Linked DNA regions of Homo sapiens: region 2 is linked to region 1. The links come from fine-mapping of genetic effects on gene expression. A gene starts in region 1. The other region holds a variant in brackets. All regions are shown on one strand. Distances are from middle to middle.

Region 1 (12,376 bases):
CTTTCTCACTGGACTTTCTCTTTTCCGGAGAGCCGGGTTGGTGGTGCTGCCTGTGTATTCCACGAACTAAGCCCTGTCCCCAGCCCTTGCAGTGTTTCTGTATCAACTCCACGCCAGCGCGGTTCTCCATTTTTCTTAGCCTCTTAATTAGGACAGGGTCGGATTTCAGCTTTTATCCACCGGGTTTATCCTGTTGCAAAGCAGAGTACACAGTTTTAGACACAAAATAATTGCAGTTGAAATGGATACACATTCTGGTGGTAAGATTTGGAAACGTGGTATTTGATGGAACCCTGTTGTAACATCTAAAACTCTTTGGATTTTTTAAAAACGTATTCTGTGTAATCCAGTAAAAATTTGGATTCGTCCAGTATTTATAGAGTAGATTATTAACCGCAGTGGTGCTCATTCCAGGGCCCTGCCGGGTATTTTGTGCTATGGATGTGAGTACGGCAAAGAGACTGAATTAAGCTGTTTTGTATTTGGAATCGGATTGTTCACGTTGCAACGTTGCTGCAATGATAAATGGATGGATACTCTTTACACTTTGAAGTGGATTTAATCTTCACTTTTAAGCCCCTTCATCTCACCTACACAGCAGGAGAGCTTTGGCTTTGATATTTGGGGAAATGGCTGTTATTTTACTTACAGATCACGCTATTCTAGTCTTGGCCTAGTTAAAAGCAAATGAGTACTTTAGTTTCTACAAGATTTATTGGCCACTACTTGGTCTGCACAAAAGACTATAACACTTGGCCGGACGCGGTGGCTCACGCCTGTAATCCTACCACTTTGGGAGGCCGAGGCGGGCGAATTGCCTGAGATCAGGAGTTCGGGACCAGCTTGGGCAACATGGTGAAACCCTGTCTCTACTAAAAATACAAAAAATTAGCAGGGCATGGTGGCGCGTGCCTGTAGTCCCAGCTATTGGGGAGGCTGAGACAGAATCACTTGAACCTAGGAGGGGAGGTTGCAGTGAGCCGAGATTGTGCCACTGCACTCCAGCCTGGGCGACAGAGCAAGACTATCTCCGGAAAAAAAGAGAAAAAAAGACTACGACAAGATAACATTATGTGGAAACAAACATTATGTCGAATACAGAGTATAGAGGGAGTACAAAGTTGAATAAGGAAAATTACGCCTTTCCCTCAAAAAGCATATAAGTAATTTAAAAGTACAATAGTAAGAAATAGACCGGTTCTTCTATTCCTAGCATTCATTGGCTCTAGAATGAATAGTGTTTATCTGAACTCAAGAATAAAATTGGAAGTAATTTACCCTTTACAAAGATAAGATGGAGTTTAACCTAGGTTTTCTTTTTAAAAAAAAAAATCACAACACAGTACAATCTGAGTAATGATTTTGTTCCTCTAGTTATGTACTCTCTTCACATACACATAAACCAAAAAGGCATCTTAAGCATTCAACAAGGAATATTGACGAGTGTCTACCATGTGCCAACTACTGGTCCGTGCGCTGGGGATACAGTAGTGAAAAGTTTTTTGGAGCTTTACATTCCATAAAACTTTTAGCCCACCCCTTGGGATAAAAAGTCAAAAAAGATTTTATCTTTTTTGGAACAAACTTAGAAGATCAAGCAATAAAACATAATTACCTTTGATAACGAATTTTAAATGTCATTGAAGAAAGGTGCTTAATTTTGAAGATACGTTGAAGAATCTTGTCTCTTTCAGTTTTGTTTCCTGTGGCGTGTTGCAAAAATGGATGTTAAAACTTTTCCGTAGAACAGAAATTTCAAATGGATTAAAAAGAAACATTTAAAATTAAACTTTTTTCTAAAATTATATTTCCAGTCTAACTGAAAATGCTCAAACCTATGAGAGTCAGATATAAGAGATGAACATATAATTCTTTTTCTTTTTTTGAGACGGAGTCTTGCTCTTGTCACCCAGACTGGAGTGCAGTGGCGTGATCTCAGCTCACTGCAACCTCCGCCTCCCGGGTTCAAGCGATTCTCCTGCCTCAGCCTCCTGAGTAGCTGGGATTACGGGTGCCGGACGCCATGCCCAACTAATTTTTGTATTTTTAGTAGAGACGGAGTTTTGTCATGTTGGCCCAGGCTGGTCTCGAACTCCTGACCTCAGGTGATCCGCCTGTCTTGGCCTCCCAAAGTGCTGGGATTACAGGCGTGAACCACCGCGCCTGGCCAAGCATAGAATTGTTTAAGTTTCAAAGTGCTTAAAAAATAAATGCAAACTCATTCATCTTAAACTTGAAAACCCCTAAACCATATGCTACCGTAATCAACTCTACTTCTGATTTACAAGATTTTGCCTTGAAAGAAAATGTAATACTGAGAACTTGATTTTGTTATTGTTGTCATTAAGGACTGAGAAATGGCATTAGTGATATTTTGGAATCATTAACTTTAACACACTTCCTCGTTCTGACCTAGATTGGAGAGGGAGGTGACTTCAATTAAATGGATCCTCTTTTTATGTATATATGGTGTATTAGTCAGGGTTCTCTAGAGGGACAGAACTAATAGGATGGAGATATAGATATATATAATGTATATACATATATATGTTTATTAAGTACTAACTTACATAATCACAAGGTCCCACAATAGACTGTCCGCAAGCTGAGGAGCAAGGAGAGCCAGTCTGAGTCCCAAAACTGAAGAACTTGGAGTCTGATGTTCGAGGGCAGGAAGCACCCAGCACAGGAGAAAGATGTAGGCTGGGAGGTATAGTAATGAAGAGCATTAGCAGTCTATTTTACTTTACCTTAATATTCAACCTGCAGATATTCAATATGCAAAAAGATCACATTTCTAACCATCATTAGGTAATGAGCTATGTTTCTCCTTGTTTTGATGATCCGCAAAAGCCTTAAGAAAACAGAATTAGCTGCCGGGCACGGTGGCTCATGCCTGTAATCCCAGCACTTTCAGAGACCGAGGTGGGCGGATCACCTGGGGTCGGGAGTTCAAGACCAGCCTGACTAACATGGAGAAACCCCATCTGTACTAAAAATACAAAATTAGCTGGGCATGGTGGCACATGCCTGTAATCCCAGCTACTCAGGAGACAAGCAGGAGAATTGCTTGAACCCGGGAGACGTGAGAAAGAGGCAGGAGAATCGCTTGAACCCAGGAGATCACGCCATTGCACTCCAGCCTGGGCAACAAGAGTGAAACTCCATCTCAAAAAAAAAAAAAAGAAAAAAGAGAAAAGAGAATTGGCCAGGTGTGGTGGCTTAGGCCGGTATTCCCACCGCTTTGGGAGGCTGAGGTGGCTGGATCACTTGAGGTCAGGAGTTCCAGAGTCCCAGACCAGCCTGGCCAACATGATGAAACCCCATCTCTACTAAAAATACAAAAATTAGCTGAGCGTGGTGGCACGCACCTGTAATCCCAGCTACTCGGGAGGCTGAGGCAGAAGAATCACTTGAATCTGGGAGGTGGAGGTTGCAGTGAGCCGAGATCGTGCCACTGCACTCCAGCCTGGGTGATAGAGTGAGACTCTGTCTCAAAAATAAATACATAAAAATAAAAATAAAAATGCAAAAATTAGCTGGGCACGGTGGTGTGCACTTGTAATCTCAGCTACTGTGGAGGCTGAAGCAGGAGGATTGCTTGAACCAGGAGGCAGAGGCTGCAGTGAACCCAGATCAGGCCACTGCACTCCAGCCTGGGTGACAGAGCAAGACTGCCTCAAAAAAAAAAAAGAAAACATAATAGAATCACTGCCAGTGAGGGGCTAAAAACATTACATGAATTTTCTGAAGACAGAAGATACTATTGTTAATTTAAAAGTTGTGATGTTCTATGAACAATTCAAATATACCGCATGTCCAGATTCATGTGCAGATTTGATCTTCAGTGTTACTAAGCTGCTTTCAGAATCTCTGCTCCAGTTATTTCCTTGAATTCGTGTGTTCTCACAGATTGCAACTGAGCTTTTTGTTAATTTGCTTTATTTACTGGCACATCTAATATCTGAATCAGCTTTATCAGGTATTTTACTACCCAGATTTCTTCCCACCTGCACAATTAATCCCTTTCGTAAGGGATTAATTCATCAACATTCAACAAGCCCTTTTATTTCTTCTAAATTTTTTTTTTCCAGCCACAGCAAAACAAAACAAACAAAACCCAAGTCCTTTTCTGAATTTAGTGCAGGGCACAGTGAGAAGTTCAAAATAATGTACAATTTAAGATACTCAGGGAGATAAATATACACACAGCACTGGAAAGTTACAAAATAACATAAGGCAGGCAAGAAGTGATAATATTCAGGAGAATTTAGAGTAGTTAGGTAACATGAGTGGTTAGCATTGATGTAGGCTATAGGGTCTCCTAATTCTAACATTTTAACCTTATTAAATTAGACAATAGATTACATTAGACTACAGTTAGCTTGAAACAGAATTGCAGAGTTGGACTCCAGGATATTGAGAAACTACTCTAGGTACACACTTGTTTGTCTCTACTTAAACCTTTGCTTTTTAATAAAACACCAAAGCAAACTAAAAACAACAACAAAAAACCAGAGGAACGTCTCCTGTTTTGAGAACTGGAAAAGCAAAGGGGACTTTTTCTTTTTTTTGAGACATCGTATTGCAAGACACCAATAGAGGCACTTTTTTTTTTTTTCAGGCGGAGTCTCCCTCTGTTGCCCAGGCTGCAGTGCAGTGGTGTGACCTCAGCTCACTGTGAGCTCTGCCTCCTGGGTTCAAGCGATTCTCTTGTCTCAGCCTCCCCAGTAGCTGGGACTACAGATGCACGCCACCACGCCCGGCTAATTTGTGTATTTTTAGTAGAGACGGGGTTTCACCATATTGGTCAGGCTGGTCTCGAACTCCTGACCTCAGGTGATCCATCCGCCTCAGCCTCCCAAAGTGCTGGGATTACAGGTGTGAGCCACTGCGCCTGGCCCAATAGAGGCACGTTTGTCAAGCTATTGTGAGTAACTTTCAGAATGTTTTTGTTCTCAAGATACGGGATCATGGTGGGGGAGGCATGCTGTGTATTGGAGTGCAGACATGGTGTGTGTTGGGTTGCACACTGTGTATTGGGGTGCACACTGTATTGGGGTGTAGATGTGTGGGGGCGCACACTCTATTGAGGTGCACATTGCATTGGAATGCAGACAGTGTTTGCTGGGATGCACATGTGCTGTGTTGGGGTGCACACTGTACTGGGGTGCAGACATGGTGTGTGTTAGAGTGCACAGTGTATTAGGGGTGCACACTGTATTGGGGTGTACACTGTACTGGGGTGCAGACATGGTGTGTGCTGGGGTGCACACTGTATTGGAGTGCACACTGTATTGGGATGCTGATGTGGTGTGTGCTAGGGTGCATACTGTGTATTGGGGTGCAGACTGTATGCTGGGTTGCACACTGTGTATCGGGGTGCACTGTGTTGGGATGCTGATGGTGTGCTGCAGTGCACACTATTGGGGTGCAGATGTGTGTGCTGGGGTGCACACTGTATTGGGGTGCACACTGTATTGGGATGCTGATGTGTGTGCTGGGGTGCATACTGTGTATTGGGGTGCACACTTCTTGGGGTGCAGACTGTGTGTTGGGTTGCACATTGTGTATCGGGGTGCACTGTGTTGGGATGCTAACGGTGTGCTGCAGTGCACACTGTATTGGGGCGCAGATGTGTGTTTGGGGTGCACACTGTATTGGGGTGCACACTGTATTGGGGTGCTGACGTGTGTTCTGGGGTGGACACTGTGTATTAGCGTGCTGACGTGGGCTGTGCTGGGATGCACACGTGCTTCGCTAACAGGCCAGGGCCCGGCAACAGAAGCTTGCACTGTAAACGCTCCTCCCGCGCGGCGGACACAGCTCCAGGCTGGTACCGCGCGCACACGGACGCCTCGCAGGACCTGGGCTAATAAGGAGAGGAGATCGGCACGGTACCGCCTCTTCCCACGGCCTCCCGGCGCGGCACCGCCCTCCTCCCTCCACCCCGGGCCTTCCCCGCCCCAACCTCTTCGGGCCCTGGTTCTCCACCCTTGCCGCGGGCGACTCGAGCCAGGCCAAAGGGAGGCGCTACCTGAGGACTGCTTCCGGGAGTGGGCGTGGCCCCAAGGGCGTGGGCGGGGCGGGGCGGGGCCGTGCTGCTCTTGAGCGACCGGCAGCGTACCCGGCGTGGCTCCCGTCTCCGCCCAGTCGTAGGCGCTGGCCGCTGACATGTTGAGGACTACGCGCGGCCCAGGCCTGGGCCCCCCGCTGCTCCAGGCCGCGCTGGGCCTTGGGCGGGCTGGGTGGCACTGGCCTGCGGGCCGGGCGGCGAGCGGGGGGCGCGGGCGGGCCTGGCTGCAGCCCACGGGCCGGGAGACGGGTGTGCAGGTGTACAACAGCCTCACCGGGAGGAAGGAACCCCTAATCGTGGCGCACGCCGAAGCCGCCTCCTGGTGGGCCGCGCGGGACTGGGGCACGGGCGGGGGCCGATCGTGGCGGAGACTTCCCACGGCTGAACGGGATCTGGGCTCGGGGAGGGCGTTTAGGAAGCTGCATGGAGGGCGCCGTTCTAGAAGCTGGGGGTGCGCGGTGCTTTTGCAGGTTTGGGTGTGAATTGAGCAAGTATGAAAACCCCGGCTATTCATCCCCCAGAAGTGATTACTTTAAAAATTATATGATCATTATAACTCAGAATCGAATGTCCTTTCTTGCAAATATGTTCCACACGATGGATTTTAACTTTGTTTCCAGGTATAGCTGTGGACCAACTGTATATGATCATGCGCACCTTGGCCATGCTTGGTGAGTTTCCTGGATTTGAATTTTCATACTTCAAAGGACCATTTATTTTTGAAAGCCTTTTGCTGATTTCTTTTATCTCTTAAGTGGCAACTTAGGGATGCAGAATAATTCCTACATTCCAGGCATTGTGGGAAATGTTACAACCTCATTTGGTTCTTATAGGGATTCTGAGCACTTACACCCGTTTTACAGGTGAGGAAACTCAGGGAGACAATGGAGCACTGAAAAATGACCCGTTTTGGAACTAGATGTTTTTTGCTGGGTTTAGTGACATCAAGAGGCCTTTGCGGGGTCCCGGGGTCCTGCTGATCAGTCATTCCTGGGCCCCACCACTTCTTAGCTTCACAGCACTGAGCAGGTCACTTTATTGCTTTGAGTCCTGGTTTCTTCATCTTTGAGATGGGAATGATAACTTGGATCTTATAACAATTTTAGTAAATAATGCCCATAAAATGCTGCTTAACACTGTACCTCACATGTGAGATGTCACGGGGCTCAATAGTGATTGAGTAACTTTCCTAAGATGACACATTGAAGAGGTATTGGAACTGGGGTGAGGCTTGGTTTCTCTGACTGCGAAGTGGTTGCTCTCTTGACCTCTTTAACTGTAAGATGTACTGCCTCCTACATTTGCCAAAATTACCACTTTTCCTAATATTTTGTACATTTCCAAAATATAATGTACAAAAATGACATATTATAGATTTTTTAAAACTTAGTATTGTTCAGTCCTAGACTAAAAGTAAAAAGTTACATTTACTCTGTATACTTTTTTTTTTTCTTGAGACGGAGTCGCTCTGTCGCCCAGGCTGGAGTGCAGTGGTGCAATCTCGGCTCACTGCAACCTCTGCCTCCCAGGTCCAGTTGCCGCCTCCTGGCAGCAATTCTCCTGCCTCAGCCTCCGGAGTAGCTGGGATTACAGGCATGTACCACCACGCCCGGCTAATTTTTGTATTTTTAGTAGAGACGGAGTTTCACCATGTCAGCCAGGCTGGTCTCGAACTCCTGACCTCAAATGATCCACCTGCCTTGGCCTCCCAAAGTGTTGGGATTACAGGCATGAACCACCATGCCCGGCATACTCTGTATACTTTAAATATACATTTTTCCCCTTTACTTTGGGCTAACATACTTTTAATTATCAAAAGCATATTTCGACATCTTTCTTGAATTATAAAATATGTTGGGGAAATATTAAAAACAAAACCCCCACCCTGGAAAACCTTTCCACAAAGGTAGAAGAGAAAGAAAACAGTTCTGTTACTGAATAAGCCTTAAACCAGAAGGGGATGAGCTAAAATAACTGCAAAGACAGAAAGAAATCTCATCCTTCTATGGAGCTTTGGGGATACAGCCTGTCTCAGTCTATGAGTCTGCTGTAACAAAATATCCTAAAATGGATGACTTATAAACAACAGAAATTTCTTTCTTTCTGGGGCTAGGAAGTCCAAGATGAAGGCACCAGCAAATTTGGTGTCTGTTGAGGGTCTGCCTGCTGTGTCCTCACATGGTAGAAGGTAGAGGGAATTCTCTGAGGTCTCTTCTATGAGGGCATTAACCCCAGTCATGAGCTCTCTGCCTCCATGACTTTGTCACTCCCAGAGGCTCCACCTCCTAAAACCGTCACCTTGGGAGTTAGGGTTTCAACCATGAATTTGGAGGGAAGACAAACATTCAGACCATAGCATAACCCATTGCTTCAGGTGAGTTACAGTGTGGAGTCAGATGACAAGGTAGGCCCATCTCCTCCCAGGACACTGGGAAACGGGGCGTTATTTTCCTTGATTACATTTCAGAGGTGGGTCCCAGGTTTTGAAATTTTCTTGAGTTGTAAAACTGCCAAGAGGTTTATTTAGCCATTTAAAAGATTGACATGCATTTGAAGAGGACTGAGGAAGAAATCCTAAAAGTTGTTGGGGAGAGAATCTCTTCTCATTTCCAACTAGGAGAGTCAAGTCTTGCAGTTTAAATTTGTATAATATTTACCTTTATGACTACAGAAAAGAATACACATCTTAAGTGCGCAGCTGAATGCATGTTATAAGCTGTGTCCACACAGGGCCTTCCCAGGGGCTGGTGGGAGCTTGGGACTCTCCTGTTGACCACCTTCCTGTCAGCCTGGCCAACCCCTCCAGGCCTTTGCTGGGCTGGCCTGCCCCACCTCCCTCTCCCCATCTCAGCTCTCCTAGCATTGTACTCCTTCAGTGGTTATTTATGCAACCATCTGATGTCGTTAGCATGATGTAATTATTTCAGCTCCAGCAGGACAGGGATGCACACAGTGCCTGCTGCAGAAAGGTAGAATTTGAGCAATGGGTAGCACTCAGTTCACTGGAAAGAGACACCCTGAAAAATAGCCTCCACCATTTCCAGAAGAGGTCAGAGGGATGGAAACCCTGTTTGGGGAAAACAAATAGATCAGTTTGGTGCTAGGGGGGAGGAGCAGGGGAAGGGATGGGGCGTCAGTTGCAGCCAGACTGGGGAGGGTGCTGCGTGGTCTGGCCCAGAGAGTTTGGATTTCATGCCATGGTAGACGGAGTCACACTGGAGCGTTTTGAGGGAAGACTCTTAGCAAATGAATCATTTCAGCGATCACCCAGATGAGCACACTCACCCAGTGGATGGAGAAAATGGGGCAGAAAGAGCCGGGCTGACGGTAGCATGGTTCATGGTGGAGTCACAGAAGCAAGCTGAGGTCTCCTGATGCCATGTTCTTCAGACTTGGCTGCCCGGCACTTGCAAGGCGTGTGTGTGCGTGTTTGTGTATAGAGTGGCCCCTGTGGTCACAGCCTGCCTGCAGCGTCTCAGGGTCTCAAATTGCTCATGACCCTGCATTCCGCCAGCTCTGCCAAGCTGTGGAGCCTCTGCTGTCTCCAAGGGCAGTTCCGGGACTCAGCCTGGGCTCCTCTGGGCCAAGCAAGGGACTTGACTCTTGTTTTCATTTGCTTTAGGTTCCTGTAATTTTTTTCTTGTAAATCTCACATCTTTTAGACTCTTTCCCAACTTGAGGTGAATGAAGGAGCATGGTGATGAGAATGGTAATAATAGCTTGTGTTTTTAGAATTCATGCTGCACAGGCGGTAAGGCTGGACAGCAGTCCTGTTAGGTGGTGGGATTTTGCCAAATTTATAAGCAAGCCGACTGAGCTGTAAGAGGTTAATTATCTTGTTGAGTTTTGGAGATAGTTTTGTCCCTGGAATCAAGATTTGGTCTCAGCTGTGTTTGGAGAGGGAGGGGGTGTGTGGGAGGTTAAAGTGATACAATAACATGGCTAGGATTCCCCCACACCACCCTAAGAGAAAACAATTTTACGAACTGAAATTTAGGCCACATGGATAGCAGAGGTGAGTGTGACATTAGATAACCTTGAGTTTTAAGGTAACTTTTATGGGAAAACAGATTCTTGAGATGCTAAGTAGATTTTAAACCCTTTTAGTTTTACAAGTCTGAATTACCCCAGTGTAGTATATAAATAAGCTGGCATTTTTAAATATTCTACACTAGTGTGTGCATTCTTAGGAGTAATCTTATATGGCTTTAATGGGATCGTACTTGTTTTGATTTGGTATTTGCTTCTGTTTTGTCATAGTGAAAAATTAGAATTACTCTAGAACATGAACAAGAATGGTGAAAACACGATCTTAACTGAGAGATTGTATTATGAGTGAATTTTTATACAATTAAATAGACTTCAACTCACTTAAGCAACAACTCCAAAATTAAAAATGCTAATATTGTGTCCTGAAATTGATGCAATACCTTTGTCAGTTTCTCCTGAGAACCCTTGTGGCGCAGGCCCTGGTGCCATCAGTGAGAGGGAGTTTCCTTGTACCTGCTCCGCTGACCTGTCCATTGTGCTACACAGTAGAAGTTATGGAGCAGCATGTTAAAATGTAATGGATTTTTTACAAAGATAACTGATGACTTTGTGTAATAAAGACATCCTGACACTTTTTTTCTTTCAGCTCATATGTTAGATTTGATATCATTCGAAGGATCCTAACCAAGGTTTTTGGATGCAGCATAGTCATGGTGATGGGTATTACAGATGTAGATGATAAAATCATCAAAAGAGCCAATGAGGTAAGTGGAGAAGAGTTACATCTATTGATAATGCCATTGATTAGTGTTCTGAGCCCTTCCTGAAAGTGGTTCTTGGCCGGGCGTGGTAGCTTACGCCTGTAATCCCAGCACTTTGGGAGGCCAAGACAGGTGGATCACTTGAGGTCAGGAGTTTGAGGCCAGCCTGACAAACATGGTGAAACCTTGTCTGTACTAAAAATACAAAAATTAGTCAGGTGTGGTGGCGGGCTCCTGTAATCCCAGCTCCTCAGGAGGCTCAGGCAGGAGAATCGCTTGACCCTGGGGGGGCGAAGGTTGCAATGAGCGGAGATTGTGCCACTGCACTCCAACCTGGGTCATGGAGACTCTGTCTCAAAAAAAAAAAGAAAAAAGAAAGTGGTTCTTGTTTGCATTTTACAAGTAGTTCTCACATCTTATTGTCCATGTGTGGCCAGTGGGTGTAATCTGAGACATGAAACAGTGCTGGGTTAGCAGGGTTTCTTTGGTGCCCTAGTAAAGGAAGTTAACATCTATCGTATTGTGATCGCTGAAGGCTTTTCTGTGGCCTCGTGTCGTTACCTCCTTCTGTGGTCGTCTCCTGGCTCCAATCTTACTCCCTCCCCTGGCCCCTCGGCCTCCAAGGGAAATGACTTGACTTTCTCTTTACTGAGGGAACCAGACCCACTGATTGGACGTATTCATATTTGTGCTAATGATGCCTTTCATGTCTGTGTCTTGATAGTTTAAAAAGTACTTTTTGTATCTATTAGTATTTCAGTCTCAGAACAACCCTGTGTGCTGCGCAGAGCAGACCTTATTGTGCTTTTTTTAACACATTTTATTCCATATTAAAAAATTATTTGAAGCGATTTGAGATCTACAGAAAAATGACAAGAATAGTACAAAGATCTCCTGCAGCCACCCTGGGTTTCCTCGTGGCCATTGTTGGCTGCGTTGGGCCATCATCTTCTCTCTGTTCTAGACTTTTCCCACCAGGCCGCCTCCCCTCTCTGCACACGCCACGCGTGCCTTCAGAGCAAGGTCACTGGCTCTCGAGGCCCGCACAGCCCTCCCAGTCAGGAACCGGACATTGATGCAGTGCGCTGGTGTGGGTGACATGGACGTCAACCCCAGGTGTTGTCCCTGTCCCCGAGCGCCTCTTTCTTTTCTGTTCTAGAACCCCTTCCAGAGTCCTGTTGTCTCCTCGGTCTCCTTCAGTCTTCAGTAGTTCCCTGTCTCATGTCCTTGACACTGTCAAGGATTGTAGGACTTTGATTTTGTAAGGTGGCCCTCCACTCAGGTTCATTGGATGTGTCCCCATCTTGCAGAAGAGTCAAGAGGTTAAGGTGATCACATCTTGAGGTTGCACAGACCTTCAGGGGCAGGGCCACTCCCACAGCTCTGACTTCAGCTATCTCTGGGCAAGTACCCCTGCCAGGTGGGAATGGCCTGCGCACTTGTGGCGGGTAGCAGAAGTCTCTTTCCCGTGCAGGCTGAGGGCCCCACTGGAGTCTGGCCCACACCTGGAGTGTGGTGCCTGGCAAGCTTTGGGAAGACACAGTGGATG
Region 2 (12,376 bases), 56 kb after region 1:
TTTCTTTTTCTCGTGGACTGCACCCCACTAAAGCTCTGTGGTCTGAACATACACTCGCGGCATGTAATGATCTCCTTTCATTAACACAAGAGGTTCATTTGTTCTGTTTGTTTCCAGTGTGGTGGTCTCTCTCTTCCCCTTTTCAATTTACTTTTTGTTTTGTCTTTTTTGAGAGTCTTGCTCTGTCACCCAGGCTGTAGTGCATTAGTGTGATCTCAACTCACTGCAACCTCTGCCTCCCAGGTTCAAGTGATTCTCATGCCTCAGCCTCCCAGGTAGCTGGGATTACAGGCCTACACCACCACACCCAGCTAATTTTTGTATTTTTAGTGGAGATGGGGTTTCACCATGTTGGCCAGGCTGGTCTTGAACTCCTAACCTCAGGTCCACCTGCCTCGGCCTCCCAAAGTGCTGGGATTACAGGCGTGAGCCACTGCATCCAGTCCCAATTTACTTTTATTTGTCATATCTGTGAAACATTTGCAGGGTTCAGCATTAACACTAAAGAGAGCATGGAGAAGGCTGGCCTGGAGCCCGCCTGCACCCATTCCTTCCCCAGCAGCCACAGTTGTGTTCTCTGTTTTGGATTCATCTTCCTGTGTTCCGTTACACACGATAGGCCAATACACATAAACCTTTCTCCTCTGTCTCATTCATGAGGCAGTGTCGTATGCATGCCGCCTCTTCCCTAACAATTTAAGTGAGGTTTTAATTTGATTATAGACATGATGGGTTTAATTTCAGAAAGTTTGAAAACTGCAGACAAGACAGAGAACCACACGGTAGAAAAATTCAAAGGTACTAAGTCTGGAAAGCAGGCCTCCTGCCCGACCACGTTCACTGTTGCCCGGCTTCTCTCCTGAAGCAGCGGTTAGTTTTCTCGGAGCAGGTGTGTGTGTGCACACATCTCCCTATAGCTGTGCTTCTCACTTTCCCTTCACACACAGTCGTGTAGTTTTGCGCTTGCTTGATTAATCTCTTGGCCTCAGTCGGTTTTCTACCATATGGAGTTGGTTCATTCTCTCGAATGGCTGTGTAGTCCAGTGTGTGGGTGCAGCTTAATTAAAGAATCCCCTATTGATGGTCATTTAAATCCTACTGTATTTTCCACTAGGGTATGTGCATTTTCAATTTTCACAGACATTGCCATGTCTGCATTATTTTTAGCAGCCTCTTAGTGGCTCATGGCAGGGAGGCACCGTGATTTTATTTCCCTGTTGTTGGGCTTGTTTGTGAGACCTGTACTCTGCAGGCTGCAGTGCTGTGATGAATATCCTTTAGCTAAATATCTGTGCACATCTAATGATTAGTGACTTGAGAAAAGTGCCTTGAGGTAGAATCGCACATCAGAAGATACGGGCACATTCGGAATGTTTTGGATAGAGCCCCTGGTGACTTTATCAACGAGTGTGATTTACATTCCTACTGGCAGTAGATTAAAATGTCTGTTTCCCAGGTCTCTCCAGCATCAAATTAGAATTTTAATCAGGTTACCTTTTTTCCTTTTTTTCTTTTTCTTTTTTTTTCTTTTTCTTTTTTTTTTTTTTGAGAGAGGGTTTTGCTGTCACCTGGGTACCTGGTGCAGTGGCACCTGGTGCAGTCCTAGCTCACTGCAGCCTGGAACTTGTGGGCTCCGGCAAACCTCCCATTTCAGCCTCCTGAGGAGCTGGGACCACAGGCATGCACTACCACACCTGCTGATTTTGTATTTTTTCTAGAGACGAAGTCTCACTATGTTGCCCAGGCTGGTCTCAAACTCCTGGGCTCAAGCAATCCTCCTGCCTTAGCCTCACAAAGCGCTGGGATTACAGGTGTGACCCACGGCACCTGGCCCATTTTTCTTGTTAATTTGTGAAGAATGGCAACTAGATTTTAAATTTCCATGCGTTTGTCTATTTGCTGTGTTGATTTGTCTATATGTATTTACTGGTGATTTTTCATTTATATTTTTGGTAGCTCGCACCTACCCTAGCCCATAGTTCCTTGGAGATGTTAAGTTATTGCCCTACATCTTAAAAATACTTGCCACATTCCTGGTTTCTAGCATAAGACCCTTTCCCGCCAGTCCTCTTTGTCTTGGAGACCACTGATAGACCTTTATGATAGCCTGGGTGAAAACCCAATGCTTTCTGCGTAATGGAGGCCACAGTCCACGTAGAAAGAGCTCAACCCTGGAGCTCAGATAATGGTTTAAAACCTGCTTTCTAGTTACTGTACGTCTCAAAGCAAGCTAGGGCCTGGCCCAGTAGAGAGGCTCTGGTGCCTGCTTCTGCCCAGGGGCTCCAGGGGTGTGTGCAGCGCTGGCATCATAGGAAGTCCCTCGGCAACTGGCATGTGTACCCAGCGGGCTCCCTGTGAGTGTGCACCCTGTTACCTCGTGAGCTCACTGGGGCTCACATGGCTTGTTACCATCCCCACCTGAAGGCCAATCCGGTCCTCCGGCCTGGGCTCTGGGAGATTGCTTACCTCCTGGAGAGTTCCAGCACGAGCTTACACTGCCGTCGCCACATTTTGCCTCTCAGGGAGCCGTGGCAGGTTGCACGGTGGAACCGGAGTAGTATAGAAACTTGCTGATATCAGCCGGCACAGAGCAGGAACACGCTAAAAAATTAATGTCCGTGTGCACCCACAGTATTCAAGAGTTTTCACATCATTGTCAGAATACTGTGTAATGAAGAAGTTATAATATGTTTCTCCTTTAGTCCGTATAAACTCAATGCTCTAGAAAGATTAGATTCCAGATTTCTATTAGAACTACTACTATAGCTCGCTGCAGTAGCGCCCGCCCCCGCAAGAGCAGGGAAGATAAGCCTTTAATGTTGTTGGGGTTTCAGAGAACTATGAGATGCGTGAAAACACATTGAGGCTAATTCTGCATGCGTTTACATTCTGAGAGGAAAACCCCTTTGAGAGAAAGCCAGGTGAAATCGTTTTTGGAATGAAGTGGGGAGCGTGGAGGCTGCTTGTGGAGTGGTGTTTCCACACCGAAACCCGGAGACCTAAATAGGGCGCAACCTGAACTGAAACCGGCAGGACATGGCTGTGTGCGTTAATTGGAACCACAGCACCTCGGGTGAGGGAGGGTGTCAAGTAAGCCTGCGAGTTGCGAATTAGAGGACCCAGGAGTAATATTCCTTTTTTCACAATTTGGGAAGGAGCACCCGGGAGATGGACAGACGGAAATGGAATTCCAGTGTGATTACTGATGAACTACTGTTGGATTGGACAGGGGCTCTTCACACACACACACACAAACACACACACACACATACCCCAGCCCCCCTCCCCACCCCAGGCCCCTGTGGCAGCCTGGTGAAGTCTGTGGACCCAGCCTTACAATTTGCTTTAAATACGTAAAATAAAATACATAGGATCCCAAAGGCCGTTGATGATACTGAAGTAGAGGAGCGGGGGCTCTGCTTGACTCAGCGGTTAGCTCAGCGTGGGTGGGGTCTGATGGCTGCCATCCTCTCGTGTGAGTTGTGGTGTGTGATGTCATCCCTGTGGGGTCACCTGTGGCAGCTGTGGCCACCATGCCAGGCTCTGTGCTTCCAGATGCGTTTGCTGCCTACACTGACCATCGAAGGAAATACCCATTTCGGTGCAAGGCTGGCAGAAATAAACACATAACTGTTGAACCATCCCAGTTCACAGATCTCCCCGCCCTCCCACCTTCTCTCTGTGGGCCCCTAGGAGGTCTGTGGACCCCAGGTTGAGCACCCCTGTGTTAGGGCATTGGCCCAGCAGCTTTCTGATTAACGCCACCCCACATGAGAATGCCCCTCACTGCCTCAGGCACAGGCAGACAGGAGTTGGGCTGTGGGGTGGGGGCTGAGCTCCTTCCTGGTAGAAGACAGACCAGACCTGCTCCATCCTCTGAAGGGACTGAGCCCTGGAGGCAGGTGGAGCAGTGTCCTCCTCCTTCCAGCTCAGCAGTCCAGGGAGCCCCCTCCTTTCTACTGGGTGGGCGAGGCCGCTGAAGCCTGAAGCAGGGACAGCCCCTTCTACCCCAAGACGCTCTTCAGTTGTGTGTGTTTTGCTCTCAGTAGGGTTGTTGAGCAGCACGGCCTTAGACTGGTCTTTTATGCCTCATAAAATACCATGTGTTGTGATGCAGTATTTTGAGCTGGACTCCGCCGTTTCCGGCTCACTCTCCCTGGCAGCTCTGTGCTCCCACGACCACCCTGCAGAGGAAGTGGGTATCTGAGCTCTGATGAGCGGGTGCAGACTGTGGGTTGGTGTCAGCCCCTGTGCTCTGGGCTTGTGTTGCTGCCCATCAGCCTAGAGAAGAGGGTATCGGGTTTACCCGAGGGAGACGGAAACGCAATTCTCACTCCAGCAAGGTCAGCGACAGCTTCCTGCGCAGTGGACAGGCATGGGGTGAGCCAGTTCTGTCTTCTGAGGTGGTGGCAGGAAAGGGGGCTTTGGTCAGAGCCGGCACCATGTGCTGCAGATCCAGGCAAGGAGCCACTCGGGCTCCCGTCGGAGCGCGTCCCTGGCCAGGGGTGCAGTCGGAGCTCGGCTTTCTTTCTTGGGGCCACAGTGGAAGCCCAAGCTGGGCAGAGCCCTCTTCCTTCTCTCCCCCACTCATCTCATCTCTTAAAAGTAGCTGCCAGAGCTGAACCCTGAGCGCCCCACAGGAGGTTTTGCTGAGGGCTGAGCTGCTTTTGCAGTGCCTCTAATGACCTCTTCTAAGCTTCCTCATGTAGAAAGCTCCACTTCTTTCTGGACAGACGTTTTCTAATTGATCTATAGGAGGATACCGGTTGGGTTCTGAGTTTTACTTAGGTTTAACCAGAAGCTGGGTGGTTTAGTCTTCAAGAGACAGACTTAGCGCATGCTTTAGCCCAGTGTTTACAAGAACTGTGCCACCAAATAGGATGAGTGAGGCTGTCGCCCCTTGGCTGGGCTGAGCTGGAGGTCAGCCGGGTCTGACGTTCACCGCAAGCTTCTCCTGGGGGTTGCAGGCAGGCCAGAGCTGGTGTGCCTCCCGCCACCTACCTGGTCTCTTCCTGAGCACAGCATCGCTCCATGCTGTCTGTCCCACGTCCCTGTCGTGCAGAAAGAGAGCCCAGGCTGAGCACAGGACACACTCCTCCTGGAGCCTGCGCAGGTGCGGATTTTCAGTGCAAACCGGCTTTCTCTTCTTGCTCTTTCCACAAATACTGAGATCGAACGTGGAAAGTTCAGTGAGGAAATCACCAGGAAACAGGTGGTAATTGTGAGTTTGGAGGGCTCATTTTCATCAAGGTTCCTGATTTCTTGATAGGTAGAGATAACTTATGTAATTGTAGAAAGTAACATATTCTCTGAACAGTGCGAAGCGTAAAAGCAAAGCCTCGTGACTGCCTGTCTCTCGCTTTACCAGGACTTTCTGAAGACCTTTTCCCCCGATGTCTTCCGGTTCTTCTGCCTGCGGAGCAGCTACCGCTCAGGTGAGCCGAGCACACGTGGAGTGGACTCCCCCCCCAGCTCGGAGACAGTCATTCTGACAGGACTGAAAACAGCAAAATGCAGGCCAGAGAATAAGCAGAACCTTGTTGAGTGAGGCTGCTGTGTGCCTTACGGTTCGGGTTGAGAGTGAACCCAGAGGACGAGGGATCCCAGTGCTGGTCTGGGCCCGGCCCACAGTGGATGTGGGCTTCCTCGTCAAGCTCGAGTCCTCTCCACTCCTTCTCTCTGGGTCTGGACAAGTCGTGAACCCGCAGCACCTCGGCTTCCTGCTGTGTGAACTGGGAGATTGGAAGGGGCCAGCCTGGCACGGCCCCTGAACATGGGAGCCCTCAAACGTGACCCTGCCTGTCCTGCCCAGGGGCAGCACTTCCCCGAACGGTGTGTAGCAGAGCAAGGTCTCCTGGATGGGTGATGACGGTTCCTCCCATGCTGCACAGTTACCTGCTGCCCCGGGCTAGGCTCTTGGCCAGGAGTTGTCTAGCACTGGCCTGGCATGGTGGCTCACGTGTATGATCCCAGCACTTTGGGAGGCCGAGGCTGGCAGATGTTTTGAGTCCAGGAGTTTGAGACCCGCCTGGGCAACATAGTGAGATCTTATCTCTACAAAAAATACAAAAGGCCTGGCACGATGGCTCACACCTGTAATCTCAACACTTTGGGAGGCTGAGGCAGGTGGATCACTTGAGGTCAGGAGTTCGAGACCAGTTTGGCCAACGTGGTAAAACCCCATCTCTCCTAAAAATACAAAAATTAGCCAGGCATGGCGATGTGTGCCTGTAATCCCAGCTACTCAGGAGGGTGAAGCAGGAGAATTGCTTGAACCTGGGAGGCAGAGGCTGCAGTGAGCCATGATCATGCCACTGCTCTCTAGCCTGGGTGGCTGAGCAAGACTCCATCTGAAAAAAATACAAAAAAATTGGCTTGGTGGCATGCACCTGTAATCTCAGCTACTCAGGAGGCTGAGGCAGGAGAATCACTTCAACCCAGGAGGCGGAGGTGCAGTGAGCTGAGATCGCACCACTGCACTCCAGCCTGGGTAACAGAGCAAGACCCTGTCTCAAAAAAAAAAAAAAAAAAAAAAAAGTCGTTATCCAGAGCTGCATCCCTGGTGGCAAGTGAGGGCTGGGGACAGTGATACTGCCCTGCCTGGCTTGACCACCTAACTGGCAATAAGGTCCCAGTGTATGGCTAGTGCTGCAGGAGCAGGGCCAGTGTCCTCTGGAGATGGTGACAGTTCCTTCCTGGTGAGCGAGGGTTGCTGTCCTTCTGGCCTCTGGTGTCCCCTCTGCTCCATTGACACTGCCGAGGCCCTGGGTCGCTGCTGTTGTCATGCCACCTCCCTCTCCCCCTTCTTGTCCCTCCTACGTAGCTCTCTTGCTCCAAATTGATGATTTCACCTTTTTAATGAAGACGATGGGAGTGGGGACATGCAGCCGAAACATAGTTTATTCTCATTCCCCCATGGGGTGAATCTATCTGGCCAGCACACTTTATGTCACACACAAAGCTTTGGTGGGTTTGGGTGAGCCCCTGGGCTGGTCCCCTATCCATCTCCCTCCCCTGTGCTGTGCCTGCAGAATTTCACCCGGCCTGCAGCTCCTGTCAGCGTGAGAGGGGCACACAGACACCTGCACCTTTGACCACCGAAAGGCTACCTTGGGCCATGTCTTTATCCTGGCTCTGACGCCACGTCGTTGGCTTTCTACTGCAAACTCAGGTTTTCTGAGACGTGGTCTGAACCTCTCCCCTGGGTGGAACTGCAGTGCATCGGCCCAGGGGACCTGCGCTCACGGGCGCACGAGCTTGAGAAAGAAGTGTGGCCAGCCTCGTGCTCGCCTGGCCTCGTGCAGCATCTGTGTGTGGTGTGCACTTACGCGTGATGAAAGCAGCCCAGCCGTGCCGTGAGAGGAAGAGTCGGGGAGGCGAATGGGCTGGAGAAACTGTTTCCGCCTGGCTCCGTGTTGCTGGAAACGGGCAGAGGCGGCGGAGATGAATCCCGTGTGCGAGCGCAGAGCTCTCTTCCCGGCTCGTGCTTGCTCCCCTCGTGGCTGGGGGCTGTGGTCCTTTCAAAGCTGTTCCCTGCGGATCCCTTCCCAGGGGCACTTTGCCCTCGGAAGCCCCGCCTCCCTTCTCGCAGATTGTGGCAGGATTAGGGGCAGCATCTTGTATGACTGTCCTAATTGTGTGCAGTTCTTTTTGAGCTTTGAATACGAAGTTTGGTCTGAAAAGAGGCTTTCTCAAGCCTGGGCAGCTCTTTCAGGAACACATTCCCAGTGGGAATTTTGGGTGGGATTCAGGAGGCACCGATCTGCCAGTGAGGGATTTCTAGGAACACAAGGTTAGTCAGGACGTGGATCCCCACAGTGGACACGACTGCCCCACCCCGCCGAGGTCGGAGGTGGCCTTGAGGAGCTGGGCCGTCGCTTGCTGTCTGAGCTTCCATCCACGAATGGTGTGGGAGTTCGGGATCTTCCCAGACATTCTTTCTTCACCTTTGGGAAGATGGAGGGGGACGGTGGTGGCATCCCTTGCAGTCTGTGCTGCGCTGACACTTTGGAGAAG[T/C]GTCTCCCATCTGTAGAGCAGAATCCTCTTTGGAGAAATGCAGCTGTCCTTGACCTTGAGGCAGAAGGCGTCTCCATCCTGGGCATCTGTCTGCCCCTCCCCATCTGGATGCCTCATCTTGCTGTGTCATTAATGGTAATCTTATTCTAACAGCCTCCCATGCATCAACTCTATCAGTCCCCGAATATTATCTTTAAATTTTGTCAGATCGCTTTGTGGGTTTCTGGCTTTTTCTCTTTTCTATCAAGCTATTCAAAGCAAAAACTGAAAGTGAATTTAGAAAAAAAGGAAAAATGTTAAGTAAGATATTAGACAGCCCTGGGGGAGGTTTTCACTGTGTTGCTTCCAGCTTGAAGCCATGTCTGATTTTGGAATTCTCGTTTTGAAGTCAGGACTTGGAGGCATGTTGAGATGTAATTTTCAGCATATGTGTCCAGATAGGCTCTTTTTATTCTTGTGGTTTTCAAAGAGCTGTTTAAAGCAGCACTCCTCAAAAGCATGGACTGTGGACTCAGACAGCCTGGGAAACAGAGTAGGCACGAGAAGGTTCTAGAAATATGTGGCTGGCTTTGCTGATATCCAAGGATATGTGATCATTGCAAAGCGATTCACTCCTGTTGTCTTACCCATCAGAATGCAGTAGACTAGAAACCACAAGAAATGAACAGATGTAAACAGAAACACTGGCCCCTCATCCAGGTGGCCTAAGAAACACCCACAGACTCTAAAGCCAGGTCTGGGGACTGCTCCTCCCTCCCTCTTTGGGCTGTCCCATCACACACAGGCACTTTCCCTCGGGAGGGCCTTCCCTAGAGGTGCCTCTGACCCCAGGGCGGGGCTCCCTCTTTCCAGAGCTAGCCATTCATCCGCACCTCCATCCATCCAGGGCGGGGCTCCTTCTTTCCAGAGCCAGCCATTCATCCGCACCTCCATCCAGTCAGTGGAAATGCACCTCTTGGCTGGAAGCACTGGGAGCATGTCTCCACCGCCACCTTGTTCTCCCACGGCAGGTGCCACTGAGCTGGGACAGACCCTGTGGTCTGTGTCCAGTGGGCCTAGGGACTCGCGGTCACTGGAGGGCGTGAGAGCCACATGTCCCGCTCTCCGTGTGGTCCCTGGGTGGCAGTGCCCTCAGAAAACACTGATTCTGCTGGACCAGGGCAGGGGCACAGCATGGTGGGCACCGCCTCAGTGACCATCTCTTCCTCCTCAGCCATCGACTACAGTGACAGCGCCATGCTCCAAGCTCAGCAGCTGCTCCTGGGGCTGGGCTCTTTCCTGGAGGACGCACGTGCCTACATGAAGGGGCAGCTGGCCTGCGGCTCCGTCAGGGAAGCGATGCTGTGGGAGAGGTAAGAGGCCCGCCTAGCACCCGGCGTGGCACCCCTCCTGTGGCCTGCTGGGTGCTGCTGGTGGGCTCTTGAAGGGGAAGAGGGGCCCCCAGGAGACAGGGCGCTGGACAGGAGGTTTGGGGTCAGGGACTGCCCAGAGAGGCCCCAGGAGACAGGGTGCTGGGCAGGAGGTGCAGGTGTGGGGTCAGGGGCTCCCCAGAGGCCACAGGGGACTGGGAGCTGGACAGGAGGTGTGGGGTCAGGGGCTCCCCAGAGGCCACAGGACACTGGGTGCTGGACAGGAGGTGTGGGGTCAGGGGCTCCCGAGACATCCCAGGGAGACGGCGCTGGCAGGAAGTGTGCCTGGGGCCCTCGGGCTCTGAGCCCCCTGCTCAGAGTGGCTTTGGGCTCGGGTTCCCTGTGCGAGGAGCGGAGCTGCTCATCCCTCCCAGTCCTGACTGTGAGGAGCCAAAATCTATAAAACACACAGGCCTGGGCCCACAGCATCGCCTCCACTCCCCACCCACGGGTGTCCTGGGCAGCGCTGCACATTCATCCCGGCATGCAGAGTCTTCCGGATGGTCTTGGTGATAACCCACCCCTGCCACTTCAGCAGGGTAGGCAGCCAGTGGCCACGGGAGGCTGAGATCCGGGAGCCCCGGGCTGGGCCTCCCCAGCCTCTCTTTGTGAGTGGTCAGCCGTGCCGTCTCTCCCCCACCGAGTCTTCCTTGCCACTCCCCTCAATATCTATTGATTTTTAAAACCATCATGAAAATGCCCACGTGTGTCTTGTATTTTAAGTGTCACAGGTGACCTCTGCTCTGGGACTTTTTCTTGGGGTAACATGACAGTTTGCAGTTGATGTTACATAATTTTCTGCTACTCAGGAACTCAAGTCTTTGGGAATATGACCTAGAGAAAGTCCCCAGATTAGAGCCCCCAGCGTCTCTCCCTGGGGAAGGACTGGTGTGGGGGCCGCCTGGGGAGAGTGGAGCTCCCTCTGCTGTGACTGTTCTCTCCTCTTCCCTCAGGCTCTCCAGCACCAAGAGGGCCGTGAAGGCGGCCTTGGCAGATGATTTTGACACACCCAGGGTGGTTGATGCCATCCTGGGCCTTGCACACCACGGGAATGGACAGCTCAGGGCGTCCCTGAAGGTAGCTCAACGAACAGGTGGCCTTGCGGTCCTGCTGCCAGGGGCATGGGTCGGGTCCTCTGGTGGGTTTTTCTCATGTCGGCTGGGTGGCATCTCTGCTGATTTCGCCTCCCGCAGCTTCTGTGGAGGAACTCATGGAGCCCGAGTCTGCCGCTGACACACGGGATGGCACCCAGCCTGGGGCTTGACCCTCCCGGGCCTCAGGGCCACCTGGGGAACAAGCTCTCAGGAGCCCCTGAGGCTGAGAAATTCTGTGTGCTTGATCCTCAGGGGACACATCTCATGTCCCCACTGCATTCATGGCCCTTTCACAGAGAGAGCTTTTGTGGGGAACTTTTTAAGGAAAGACCCATTTACCCCAAGGCACTGTTATGCAATCTGCACCCCAGTGTGATGACCACACCAAGCACCCAGGGGTCTGAGCCTGGACTCGTGGGTCACTGCAAGTGTTTGGCAGGTGGGACAAAGACCGTGAAGGCGGCGGCAGGCTTTGGTTCCTGCACGTCTGAGGGTCCCCTGCCAGGCCCTGGGAGGCGCTGCGTCAGGAGCCCCGTGACCTTTGATGACCCGGGAAGCCGAGGCTGTTTGTGCCTCTCCCACCTCTGGAAACACCTGGGGGTTCTGGCCACATGCTCTGTTAGTTGAGCATCTCTGTGGAGGTCTCCATCCCTGGCTGCGTGCAGTGTTGGGTTTCAGAGCACCAGCAGGTGGGGCAGGGTGCCATGTGCCCTTGCCGGGTGCCTTCGGTCCAAATACTGCAGACGCGCAGGGCTCGCCTCTGAGGGGGGCGGGCATTTGAGTCACAGCCGGCTGCAGGAACAGGCTGCCCCGCACTGAAGGCAGCCAGGCCGGGCTGGGGCAGGTCCCGCAGCCAGGCTGCTCCTGCACGGGAGCTCCTCCTCCTCAGCCCGTCCGCGGCCTCCTGCCTTCACCGCAGCTGCTGCCGGCACTACCAGGCTGGCCCAGCTCTAGGGCAACAGGGGCCTCTTGTGGCAAGGGGCGGGACAAGTAAAGAGGCTGGCTTTTGTCCTGCGCTTTTCCTTCCCAAGCTTTGCAATTCTGGGGCACCTGCAAACTAAGGCTAGTGTCACCCAAGGGTCTCTGTGCTTGGTAACTGATGTGAGCCACGTACCAGGATTTCCCCGTTTTCTGAGAAACCCAGCCCAGTGCCCACTCAGCCTCCACCTACCATGCGCCACCTGCCATACTCCACGGTCATGCTTCACCCGCGAAGCCTGATGAGCTAGTCACCACCCACATGACTGATGGGTAAACTGAGGCACAAGAGATTCCTCATGCACCTATAGTTGTATGGTCTGCAGTGAGGTAGCCGATGCCAGAGCTGTGTCCTCCCTCCATAGAAGCCAGGAGAAAGGCCAGACTGAAGTGACCTGCTGAAGCCTTTGTCTTTTGACATTGAATTCCGTTTGCCCACTGCCATCAAGACTGCTTTTAAGGAGCTTCTGCGACATGATCTCTTACAGGAACCTGAAGGGCCGAGAAGTCCTGCTGTGTTTGGTGCCATCATCTCTTACTTTGAACAGTTTTTTGAAACTGTTGGAATTTCTCTGGCAAATCAACAGGTAGGTCCTATTATTTTAAATGCTTAATTCTGGAATTTTCTCCATGTTGGGACAATAACCTTTACCCTTTTAACTTGGAATAGAGCATTATGATGCCACACTAATGTATTTACCTGTTTAAAAACATGTTACTTTCCTGGAAAAATAAACACACTCAGAGCCAATACTTATTAATTGGAATTGCACAATTCTACTTCTGCAGTTGGCAAACTCTCGTGCGCAGAACCAGAGATGAGTCCATCTCAGCAACAGAATGTCGCCAGCTCTGCACACACGTTTATGTTCAAAGACT

What was found.
Region 2: its variant is fine-mapped to the expression of CARS2 in whole blood (TOPMed, PIP 0.95).

Annotation. Positions count from the first base shown.
Region 1 is chr13:110,699,892-110,712,267 of GRCh38, reverse strand. It overlaps CARS2 (cysteinyl-tRNA synthetase 2, mitochondrial), which reads left to right and starts at 6,152. Exons shown (of 15, transcript NM_024537.4): 1 at 6,152-6,398; 2 at 6,697-6,747; 3 at 10,713-10,830. The coding sequence starts at 6,175. RefSeq lists enhancers at 52-141, 5,225-5,344, 5,355-5,734 and a silencer at 5,785-6,344.
Region 2 is chr13:110,644,093-110,656,468 of GRCh38, reverse strand. CARS2 (cysteinyl-tRNA synthetase 2, mitochondrial) reads left to right here. Exons shown (of 15, transcript NM_024537.4): 10 at 5,369-5,435; 11 at 9,230-9,368; 12 at 10,379-10,502; 13 at 11,986-12,084. Among named protein-coding and RNA genes, the nearest start is that of NAXD-AS1, 34 kb to the right of the region's middle. RefSeq lists silencers at 2,949-3,008, 3,049-3,138 and an enhancer at 6,882-7,381. The variant T/C (reference allele first, on the strand shown) is at 8,017.